Regions from separate parts of the Homo sapiens genome. Here region 1 is linked to region 2. A link means that fine-mapping ties the variant in region 2 to the expression of a gene that starts in the linked region. Tissue or cell type: testis. Region 2 holds a variant in brackets; the other region holds the start of a gene. All regions are shown on one strand. Distances are between the middles of the regions.

Region 1 (5,246 bases), 77 kb after region 2:
TTGCAGTGAGCTAAGATCATGCCGCTGCACTCCAGCCTGAGCGACAGAGACTCTGTCTCAAAAAAATAAACAAAACAAAACAACACAAAAAAACCTGTCCTTACCTTCTAGATAAGTCTTGGCATGAAGTCTATCCACTGAAGTAGTTTGTGACAAGTACTTGAAGCAAGTAGTTTGTGCATTTTTCTACATTTATGCTAATTATGTCTGTTTCAGAGTGGTAGTCTTTCAAAACAATATGATGTTTTTAAAGATATATCCACAAATCCTCTGATACTGCCTCCCTTAAGAGAAGAAACTTAATTCCTCTCTCTTTGTGTGAGAAAAAAAAAATCCAGGCACAGTGACTCATACCCGTAATCTCAGCACTTTGGGAGGCTGAGGCAGGAGGATCACTTCGGGCCAGGAGTCAGAGACCAGCCTGGGTAACATAGGGAGACCTCATCTCTACCAAAAATAAGATAAAAATTAGCTGGGCATGGTGGCATCCACCTGTGGTACCAGCTACTTGGGAGGCTGAGGTGGGAGGATCACTTGAGCCTGGAACGTTGAGACAGCAGTGAGCTGAGATCGCGCCACTGCACTCCAGCCTGGGTGACAGAGTGAGACCCTGGCTGAAAAAAAAGAAAAAGAAGAAAAAGACTGTAGATGTATCTATTTTGCTCTCTGTGAATGGGGCTCCTTAGTGTCACTTCTCTTCACTGTCTGACCATCTCTTCTGTCCTTCAGTTTCCACTTTAAATGCCTTTCCATCTGCCAAGCAGTCGGAGGTGTCCTTACCATACTTCCCAAGTCAGTTCACATCTCAGTTTTAGGGCTTGTATTGTGTCATTAGTCTGTTTCCAAGCCTATCTTCTCCATAGACTTGAGTTTCTTGAGGATAACCTCTGTTATCTTCAGGGCCCACCAGTGCTGGTCATACAGTGAGCTCTCCATGGACTTCATTGTGTGCATGGGTGGATAGATAATGAGGTGACAACCTGCCTCTCAGAGCCTTAACCACCCCCAGTTAAGCCATGAAACAAGGCTATGGTTTCCAGTTTGCACGACCTCCTCCCTAAGTTCATTGCCCTGGGCCTAGAATGAGGAGAATTGGCTGGTGCCACTTCTTTCCTTTTGGCTTTCCAATGGTTTTCTTCCAAGCTATAAGGCCTTGCTCTAGAGATTTTAAAGTATTAAGAACTGGAATACTGTTCTACATGTTTAGGTCAACAGAGTCAGTTGATCCATAGAATGCACATATTGGGTTTTTGTTTTTGTTTTTGTTTTTGTTTTTCAGCATTAGGTCTTCCCCCTTCTAAAGAATGATATGTGCCCCCGAACTCAGAAGTGATGTTTGATCCTAAATTACACATGCAAAACAAATTAGTTAAATAATGATTTAGTCCAGGTTCTCTGACAAGCAAATGCCAAAAAAGGATTAGCTGGATAAGAGATTAATTGGCGAAAATACTGGGGCACTGGGGAGGGATAATGAGAAGGAAACAAGAGGGTGATAGGAGAGCCATCAGATCATGACACACGTCTGCCCCCTGGGAAGACAGAGGGAAGGAGGGAAAGAAGGAAGGAAGGAAGGAAGGAAGTGAGGGAGGGAGGAAGGAAGAGAGAAGGGAGAGGAGGGAGGAGAAGGGAAGGAAGGAAGAATGGAAGAAACTGGAGACGGAAAGAGGAAAAGAGAAAAAGAGGGAGGGAGAAAGAAAGGAAGGAAGGAAGGGAGGGAGGGAGGGAGGAAGGAGGAAAGACAGGCCATAGACTGCCTTGTAGTTCTCAGAAAGTTTCAGCAAGGTCAAAAGGGAGTCAGTGAACCTAAGTTGCCCATTAGAGGAGCCCCTGCCTCCCAGGAAGGGGCCTCCTTGATATCCCTGCCATACTCAGTCACTGACTGGGAGCAGCCCACAGGAAGTGTGGCCTCAATCCTGGGCACACCAGCAGCTAGGGCTGGAAATAAATTATGCTTCCTGCAGTAGGAGATCTGAAAGTTGTATTCTCATGCTACTGCAGACAACAATTTGTATAACTCAGAGTTAACTACTCTCTGATCTTACCTGAAACAGTGGAGTGATCCAAGGCAAGTTTGGGGTTTAGTCCTCAATCATCCACCTGGGCCTTGTTCTCAATTCCACTAACTAAACAGAGGGTTGTAGTCACAGCATCCTAAATGAAGATTGAGAAGAAGGATCCACATTTTGCTAAAAATGTTAAGCTATAGCTCTGCAGCAAAATAATTCCTGCTTTCATTTCAAAAACAATAGATGTATTACTTTTCTTCTGCTTCTGCAAGACACCGATTCGAGAGGAGTGTTGGATGCCTGCAAACAGGCAAAAACAAAACAAAACAAAAAACAAAACAAAAAACCCCCCAGGTATCCAAAATCTAGTGACTGTTAGTCCAAAGTCTTACTTTTTTTTTATAGACTGATTTATGGATCAAGAAATCTTCAATTTGCCTTTGCTACCAAATGAGGCCACCTTATCATGGGTCATCTTTACCTCCATGCCCTAGCCCTGCTAGGGGACAGTGTCTCACCTCGACTAACAGGCGTTCAGTTACGCTGACATCAACTAGATTAAGAGAGTTGGCTCTTGCCCCAGTGAGTTGACTGTTTAGGAAGCCAGTGTTTGCAAGAGGCCTTCTTTGCAGAACTTGCTCTGCTAAATCTCTCATTTGGGGAACATTTGTAAACATTTATTATTTACTTTTATTTTTAGAGGCAGGGTCTCACTTTGTTGTCCAGGGTGATCTTGAACTTCTGGCCTCAAGCGATCCTTTTGCCTCAGCCTCCCAAAGTGCTGGGATTATAGGGGTGAGCCACTATCTTGGCCCTTCATCTGGGGAACCTTTTCAAAATGTCCATATAAACAGTGGTTGGATCTGGTGCAGACAAGCAGTCTTTGGAGGTGATGAAATCTGGTCTTGCATTCTAGCTCTACCACATTTTTGTCAACAAAGGCAGGTGACTGGTAGATGTCCAAATGTCAGACCTTTGGAAGAGCTCCAGAAGAAAGGGGAGATAATGCCAGAAAGGTCTAAAAGTAGCTGTTGGAATTTGGTCACAGAAAGTGACGTGCAGAGGAGCAACTCATTCACTAGGCTAGATGGAATTGGGGAGATAGAGGAGAGTCCAATTTGCAGGGAACGGGGTCAGTGAGGCATAGGAAGAAAAGCCACAGTCAGGTTTCTGATGTACCAAGGTGGAAGGCAAGGACTCAGGCACAGAAGTCTAAATAAGGAATCAACTTCCTGGATATACTGGGGAAACAGGATCAGATGACCCAGTGTTGGGCTGAAGATCTTGTTTCTTATCCACCACATACAGAGGATGTGAATTATTCCAGAGTCTGAGCTGGAACTTTCCTACTTTACAGATAGGGTTAAGCAACCCTAGATGCAAACTCCCAGGGTTCAGAATTAGGTAGACCACAATCTCCAGAAGCTGGATGTTTACATGTTCAAACTTTAAGATGATAATTTCTATAATAACAATAAATGATAGAAATAGAAAGTTCACAAATGTCAATTTACTTGAAAGTATAAGAGATATTTTAAAAAGAAATAATCCAATCAGGGCTGGGTGTGGTGGCTTACGCCTATAATCCCAGCACTTTGACAGGTCGAAGCAAGTGGATTGCTTGAGGACAGAAGTTCAAGATCATCCTGGGCAACATAGTGAGACCCCCGTCTCTACAAAAATTTTTTAAAAAATAGCTAGGTGTAGTGGTGCACACCTGTAGTACCAGCTACTCAGGAGGCTGAGATAGGAGGCTCGCTTGAGCCCTGGAGTTTGAGGCTGCAGTAAGCTATGATTGCATCACTGCACTCCAGCTTGGGCAATAGAGTGAGATCCTGATGAAAGAAAGAAAGAGAAAGAGAGAGAGAGAAAGAGAGACAGAGAGAGAGAAAGAGAGAGAGAAAGAAAGAAAGAACGAAAGAAAGAAAGAAAGAGAAATAAAAAGAAAGAAAAGAAAGAAAGAAAGAAGAAAGAGATAGAAAAGGAAGGAAGAAGGAGAGAGAGAGAAAGAGAGGGAGGAAGGGAAGGAAAGAAGGAAGGAGGGAAGGAAGGAGGAAGGGAAGGAAGGAAGGAAGGAAGGAAGGAAGGAAGGAAGGAAGGAAGGAAGAAAAAGACAGATAACACATTGGGATTCCATTATCCAAAAGGGACTAAAATAGGATCATGGAATAAATACAAATCAGCCTGTACTCATGTGTTATCAATAGGGCTGAGAAATTCTCAGTCTTCATTACCTTTTGACAACTGATGAGAGTGAACAGTCCTCTAAGATTAATGATGCACTGGCTGCCACTGCCATGCACAATCTAATCACTAAGTTAATGCTTTACCAAGAGGAATACTGCATATTTTTTTAAAGTACATATTAGAAAAAGAAAGCAGATTTGGAGAGTAAGATTCTGCTATCTTATTTCTTTTTCTTTTTTTTAATAGAGGGAGTTTCACTCTTGTTGCCCAGGCTGAAGTGCAATGGCGTGATCTCAGCTCACTGCAACCTCTGCCTCCTAGGTTCAAGTGATTCTCCTGCCTCAGCCTCCCGAGTAGCTGGGGTGACAGGCATGTGCCACCACACCTGGCTAATTTTGTATTTTTAGTAGAGACAGGATTTCTCCATGTTGGTCAGGCTGGTCTCGAACTCCCGACCTCAGGTGATCCACCCGCCTCAGCCTCCCCAAGTGCTGAGATTACAGGCGTGAGCCACCGCACCCATCATGTTTTGTTTTGTTTTGTTTTGAGACATGATCTCACTCTGTCGCCCAGTCTGATGTACAGTGGTGTGATTACAGCTCACTGTGGCCTCAGCCTCCCAGGCTCAAACAATCCTCCCACCTCAGCCCCTCCAGTAGCTGGGAATACGGGTGCACCCCCATGCCTGGCTAGTTTTTACTTTGTTTTTGCTTTTGTTTTTGTTTTGTAGAGATGGGGTTTCGCCGTGTTGCCCAGGCTGGTCTCAAAGTCCTAGGCTCAAGTGATCCACCTGCCTCAGCCTCCCAGTCTTATTTCTTTTCAGGTACTTAACACTCTATTTGGTAAATTTCATAGAAGCATTTCTGGATTATTTCTTTAAATGTATTTAATCCTCTAACAAGTTTCATAGGCAGGAGGTATTCTAGTCACATAAATATATAAGTTTAATGCTGTCTTTATTTTTCTTCAAGTTTGTTTTCCAAAAGTGTGGACAATTAGGTGCATCATGCAGCAATCCCATGGTTCTTCTGAAGGGAAACATAACCTTTT
Region 2 (5,246 bases):
ACTAGAGAGCAGTGGCGCAATCTCGGCTCACTGCAAGCTCCGCCTCTCAGGTTCACGCCATTCTCCTGCCTCAGCCTCCCAAGTAGCTGGGACTACAGGCGCCCACCACCACACCCGGCTAATTTTTTTTTTTTTTTTTGTATTTTTAGTAAAGCCAGGGTTTCACCATGTTAGCCAGGATAGTCTCGATCTCCTGACCTTGTGATCCACCTGCCTCGGCCTCCCAAAGTGCTGGGATTACAGGCGTGAGCCACTGCGCCCGGACTTAGACTTTTTAATAATAGCCATTATGACTAGTGTAAGATGATATCTCACTATGTTTTTAATTTGCATTTCTCTGATGATTAGTTATCCTGAGCATTTTTTCATATATTTATTGGCCACTTGTATGTCTTTTGAAAAATGGCTGTTCATGTCCTTTGCCCACTTTTTAATGGAGTTATTTACTTGTTTCTTGTTGAGCTGAATTTCTTGTAGATTCTTTCTCAGATGCATAGTTTGCAAATATTTTCTCCCATTCTATAGGTTGTCTGTTTACTCTGTTGATTGTTTCTTTTGCAGAAGCTCTTTAGTTTAATTAAGTTTCATTTGTCTATTTTTGTTTTTGTTGCATTTCCTTTGGAAGACTTGGTCATAAACTCTTTGCCCAGGTCAGTGTTCAGGAGGGACTTTCCTAGGTTTTCTTCTAGGATTTTCATAGTTTCAGGTTTTACATGCAGGTCAGGGGTATCCAATATTTTGGTTTCCCTGGGTCATGTTAGAAGAAGAAGAATTGTCTTGGGCCACATATAAAATACACTAACGCTAACGATAGTTGATGAGTTAAAAAAAAAATCTAAAAAAAGTCTTATAATGTTTTAAGAAAGTTTACAAATTTGTGTTGGGCCACATTCAAGGCTGTCCTGGGCCACATGAAGCCCACAGGCTGGGGGTTAGACAAACTTGATTTAGGTCTTTAGCCTACCTTGAGTTAATTTTTGTATATGGTAAGAGGAAGAGGTCCAGTTTCATTCTTCTGCATGTGGCTATCCAATTTCCTGGCACTATTTATTCAATAGGGTGTCATTTCCCTAGCGTATGTTTTTGTTGACTTTGTTGAAGATCAGTTTGTTACAGACAGATGCCTTTATTTCTGGGTTCTCTATTCTGTTCCATTGTTCTATATGTCTATTTTTATTCCAGTACCAGGCTGTTTTTGTTAATTTGAAATCAGGTAATGTGATGCCTTGACTCTGATTTTAAAAGAAGTTCTACTCTGGGTAAAATGCTATCAAACAGTATCACATGCTACAGAGAAATCTTTCATGAAAGGAAGAGTCCATCAATGTGACAAACTTTATTGTTGTTTTATTTTAAGAAACAGTCACCCAAACTTTCAACAACCACCATCCTGATCAGTCAGAAGCCATCAGCATCCTGGCAAGACCCTCCACCAGCAAAAAGATTACAGCTCACTGAAGGCTCAGATGATCATTGGCATTTTTTTTAGCAATAAAGTATTTTTAATTAAAGTGTGTACCTTTTTTAGACATAATGCTATTGCACATTTAGTGACTACAGTATAGTGTAAACATAACTTTTATATGCACTGAGAAACCAAAAAATTCATGTGATTCACTTTATTGTGATATTTGCTTTATTAGAGTGGTCGGGAAACTCATCTGCAATATCTGTGAGGTGTTCATGTATGTATCAATGGAAACCTGCAGTATATGTGTGGGAATGAGTTCTAACAGTGTTTGTGGCTGTTCATCAAATTCATTTCTCTTTCAGCTTCTTTACAATTCGACTACATTTCCCAGCTACCCTGAAATTAGACATGTTCATGTGACTGATTTGGGCCAAAGAAATACAGGCAGAAATGATGAGTGCCACTTCTAGGATTGGCCCCTAACAGTCTCCCTCAAGGAATTCTTCCATTCTTCTCTATCTGCTGGCCAGAGGCAGATGCTCAGGAAGACCTTAGAAAATGTGACTGGAAGATGACAGCCCAAGGCCCTGAGTGACTGCAAGGAATGGATCTACCCTCTCCTTTACTGCAGACTGTATTTTATGAGTAAAAAATAAACTTCCATTGTTAAGCCCTTGAGATTTTGATGTTTACCTATAATAGAGGTTAGTATTTCCTTAACTAGGAACTGTATTCATTTAATTAATTTATTTATTTTTTTGAGACAGAGTCTCCCTCTGTCACCCAGGCTGGAGTGCAATGGCGCGATCTCGGCTCACTGCAACCTCTGCCTCCCAGGTTCAAGCGATTCTCCTGCCTCAGTCTCCCAGGTAGCTAGGATTACAG[G/A]CGTGTGCCACCACGCCCAGCTAATTATTGTATTTTTAATAGAGACAACGTTTTGCCATGTTGGCCAGGATGGTCTCAAACTCCTGAATCTCAAGTGATCCGCCTGCCCAAAGTGCTGTGATTACAGGCTTGAGCCACCATGCCCAGCCGGTATATTCATTTCAGAATTTATCTTGGATATCTTTTCTATCCAGTACCTCATTCCTCTTAATTGCAACACAATGTTCCACAATATAGACATACCATCATTTACATTACTATTTTCCTGTTTCCAACTTTTTGCTATTAAAATGTTGCAAATAATACCTCTGTCTAGACCTCTTTATATAGTTGTTTCTTCACATCTAAAGCAGATATAAAGAAATGGAATCACTTGAACAAACAGTAGGTTCATGCTCAATTGTTGCTGATACTGCCAATTTGTGTTCCAAAATGTCTGTATGATTTATTCTACCATCAGCTGTGTATAAGAGTACCTGTTTCCCTGGTCTTCTGCCAATTTCAATAATGAGAATAATAATATTTCGAAAAACATTAAGCAAATGTGTTTTTCCCTAAATTTCTTCCTTAAACCGTATTTCCTTGCAGACTTCCATCCCTAAGGCTGATATACATGGGGCTTAATATCCTAGGAAAGGGAGAGCAGGTCTGATGGAAGAAAGGCTCATCAATTCAGAAGCTCACACCTGATATTTCTGAATCAGAAGCAAATTTCTGAAACCTGTCTTTGTCAAGAGAGTTTTTTCACATCCTATTGATATTTTAAGAGCCAAGCCTAGAGAGTTACATTATCAGTTTGCTTTTGCTGCATGATAAACTACCCCAAAACATAATGGCTTTGAACAACCATTGATTTGATCTTGATTCTATGGACCGGTGATTGAGATGGGCCATAGCTAGGAAGACTTGCTTCTGTTCTGTGTTGTACCAGTGGGGCTCACTCATGCACTGAGATTTCCACTGGGAAAGGCGGGATGGCAGAGGCCCTCTCCACCTGCTGACATCCTCCAAGAGGCTAGGCTATGCTCTTCACATAGTGACAAAGCATTCTTAGAAGCAAAGAAGGGCAAGTCTCAAGGCTCAGGCACTTTTGAAGCCTATGCTTGTATCCTTTGTCTGTAGCTCCATTGGCCAAAGTCACATGGCTCAGCCTAGATTTAAGGGTTGGGCAGACAGACCCTCATCTATGACAGGAGGAGCAGCAAAGATGCATACAAAAATTGTCACACCCACCGGGAATGTCATTTCACATGCCTCTACCCTAGACCTCCATGTCTCCAATCTTTCAGTCCTTCTGTTTCAGTCTGCTGGCAAACCAACCAGGCTATTCACCATTCCCGCGAGCTCTCGTAAATTCTCACCTTGGGCTACTTTTCTTTCTGCATAAAGTGGATGATCAGGTGATACTCAAAGTTCTACCCATTGGAAAGATTTTTCTCTCAACACTTTTTTCATTTTTTGTTTGTTTTTCTTGAGACAGGGTCTCAATCTGTTGCCCACACTGGAGTGCAGCAGTGCAGTCATAGCTCACTGCAGCCTTGAACTCCCAGGGTCAAGTGATCCTTCAGCCTCAGCCTCCCAAAGTGCTGGGATTACTCAGCACTGTCTTTTAAATTTCCGCCTGAGTGTGACTGTAATGCATCTGCTATTCATTTTAAACTTTCACCCACAAAACAATCTAAGCTAATCTATCCATAAACCGAGTTCAGGCTTTTTCTCCTCTTTCAGCATCTCTTCCTTTGCCCTCTATGGCCAAATGTGTGAGTTGGAGGGGGAGATGATGGTACAGCTCTAAAGAAAAGGGGAGTCTGGGCTAGCTTCTCACACATCTTACTGTGCTGCTCAGGCTCAGTCACTGACATTGCATTTCCGTCTTCATATAGACAGCGGCTGGGACTCCCTGACTCTGATTGGTGGGTTCAAGAGAACCCAGCTCAGGCTGGGCATGATGGCTCACAGCTGTAATCTCAGCACTTTGGGAGGCCGAGCAGGGAGGATCACTTGAGGTCAGGAGTTTGAGACCAGCCTCGCCAACATGGTGAAACCCCTTCTCTACTAAAAATATAAAACTTAGCTGGGCGTGGTGCGGGCGTCTGTAATCCCAGCTACTCAGGAGGTTGAGGCATGAGAACCACCTGAATCTGGGAGGCAGAGATTGCAGTGAGCCAAGATCGCACCCTGGATGACAGAGCAAGACTTGATCTCAAAAAAAAAAAAAAAAAAGAAGGAGAACCCAGCTCATAATGAGCATATTCGTGTTCATGGCCATGTAATGCTCCACGGTAAAGTGCTGCCTTGACTGGGGCCCATAGCACACCAGGAATTATTCTAGAAAGACAAAAGCACTCTTCCTCTGGAGCTTGCCATAAGCTCCACATGACATAACTTTCCAGCACTGACCTTTCCAAGGTCTTCCATATTGAATGGGCCAAGTGGCAGGACTGCCTGTAGTGCCACCTGGACTCACTGCAGAGCCCTTTTTGCTGCAGGATTCACTCAAAGCTGCCAGCCTTTCAGGTAACTCAGTATGTGAACTAGAGCTGTGTGCCCAGGTGTGGAATGGGAAGAGGCCTTCAGGGCTAGTACTTTCTTCTTGTGAGATGCAAGATGCAGCAATTTGTCTTTTAATCTGGACACCCAAAATCTTTACCTAAGTGGCAGTTCCATGAATATTCATAAAGATGATCTCCTGCCCTATGGAGCACATGTGTCCTGCCAAGGCCTCCTGCTGTTAGCACCTCTTGCTCGTCCTGTCCAATCAACACATGTCCTCAGTGTAACAGATCCATTTTGTGTTCTACAGGATAACTAGGTAATCCAGATCTCTTCTTCCTCTTTTTTATGTTTTTTATTTTTTTGAGATGGAGTCTTGCTCTATTGCTCAGGCTGAAGTGCAGTGGTATGATCTCAGCTCACTGCAACTTCTGCCTCTTGGGTTCAAGCAATTCTC

Alleles and levels. Positions count from the first base shown, and alleles are read on the strand shown. Sizes are in standard deviations (SD) of each study's normalised expression.
For the expression in testis of the gene that starts at base 2,138 in region 1, allele G in region 2 goes with a lower level than allele A (small effect, 0.37 SD a copy in GTEx).

Evidence for each region. PIP is the estimated chance that this variant, and not a neighbour inherited with it, causes the effect. A credible set is the group of variants that fine-mapping cannot tell apart.
Region 1: it holds the start of LINC02652, and the variant in region 2 is the best candidate, but not a certain one, in a credible set for the expression of LINC02652 in testis (GTEx, PIP 0.88).

What each region holds. Positions count from the first base shown.
Region 1 is chr10:28,493,676-28,498,921 of GRCh38, forward strand. It overlaps LINC02652 (long intergenic non-protein coding RNA 2652), which reads right to left and starts at 2,138. Exons shown (of 3, transcript NR_134496.1): 1 at 2,046-2,138. RefSeq lists an enhancer at 1-56.
Region 2 is chr10:28,416,440-28,421,685 of GRCh38, forward strand. No RefSeq gene overlaps it. Among named protein-coding and RNA genes, the nearest start is that of LINC02652, 77 kb to the right of the region's middle. The variant G/A (reference allele first, on the strand shown) is at 2,297.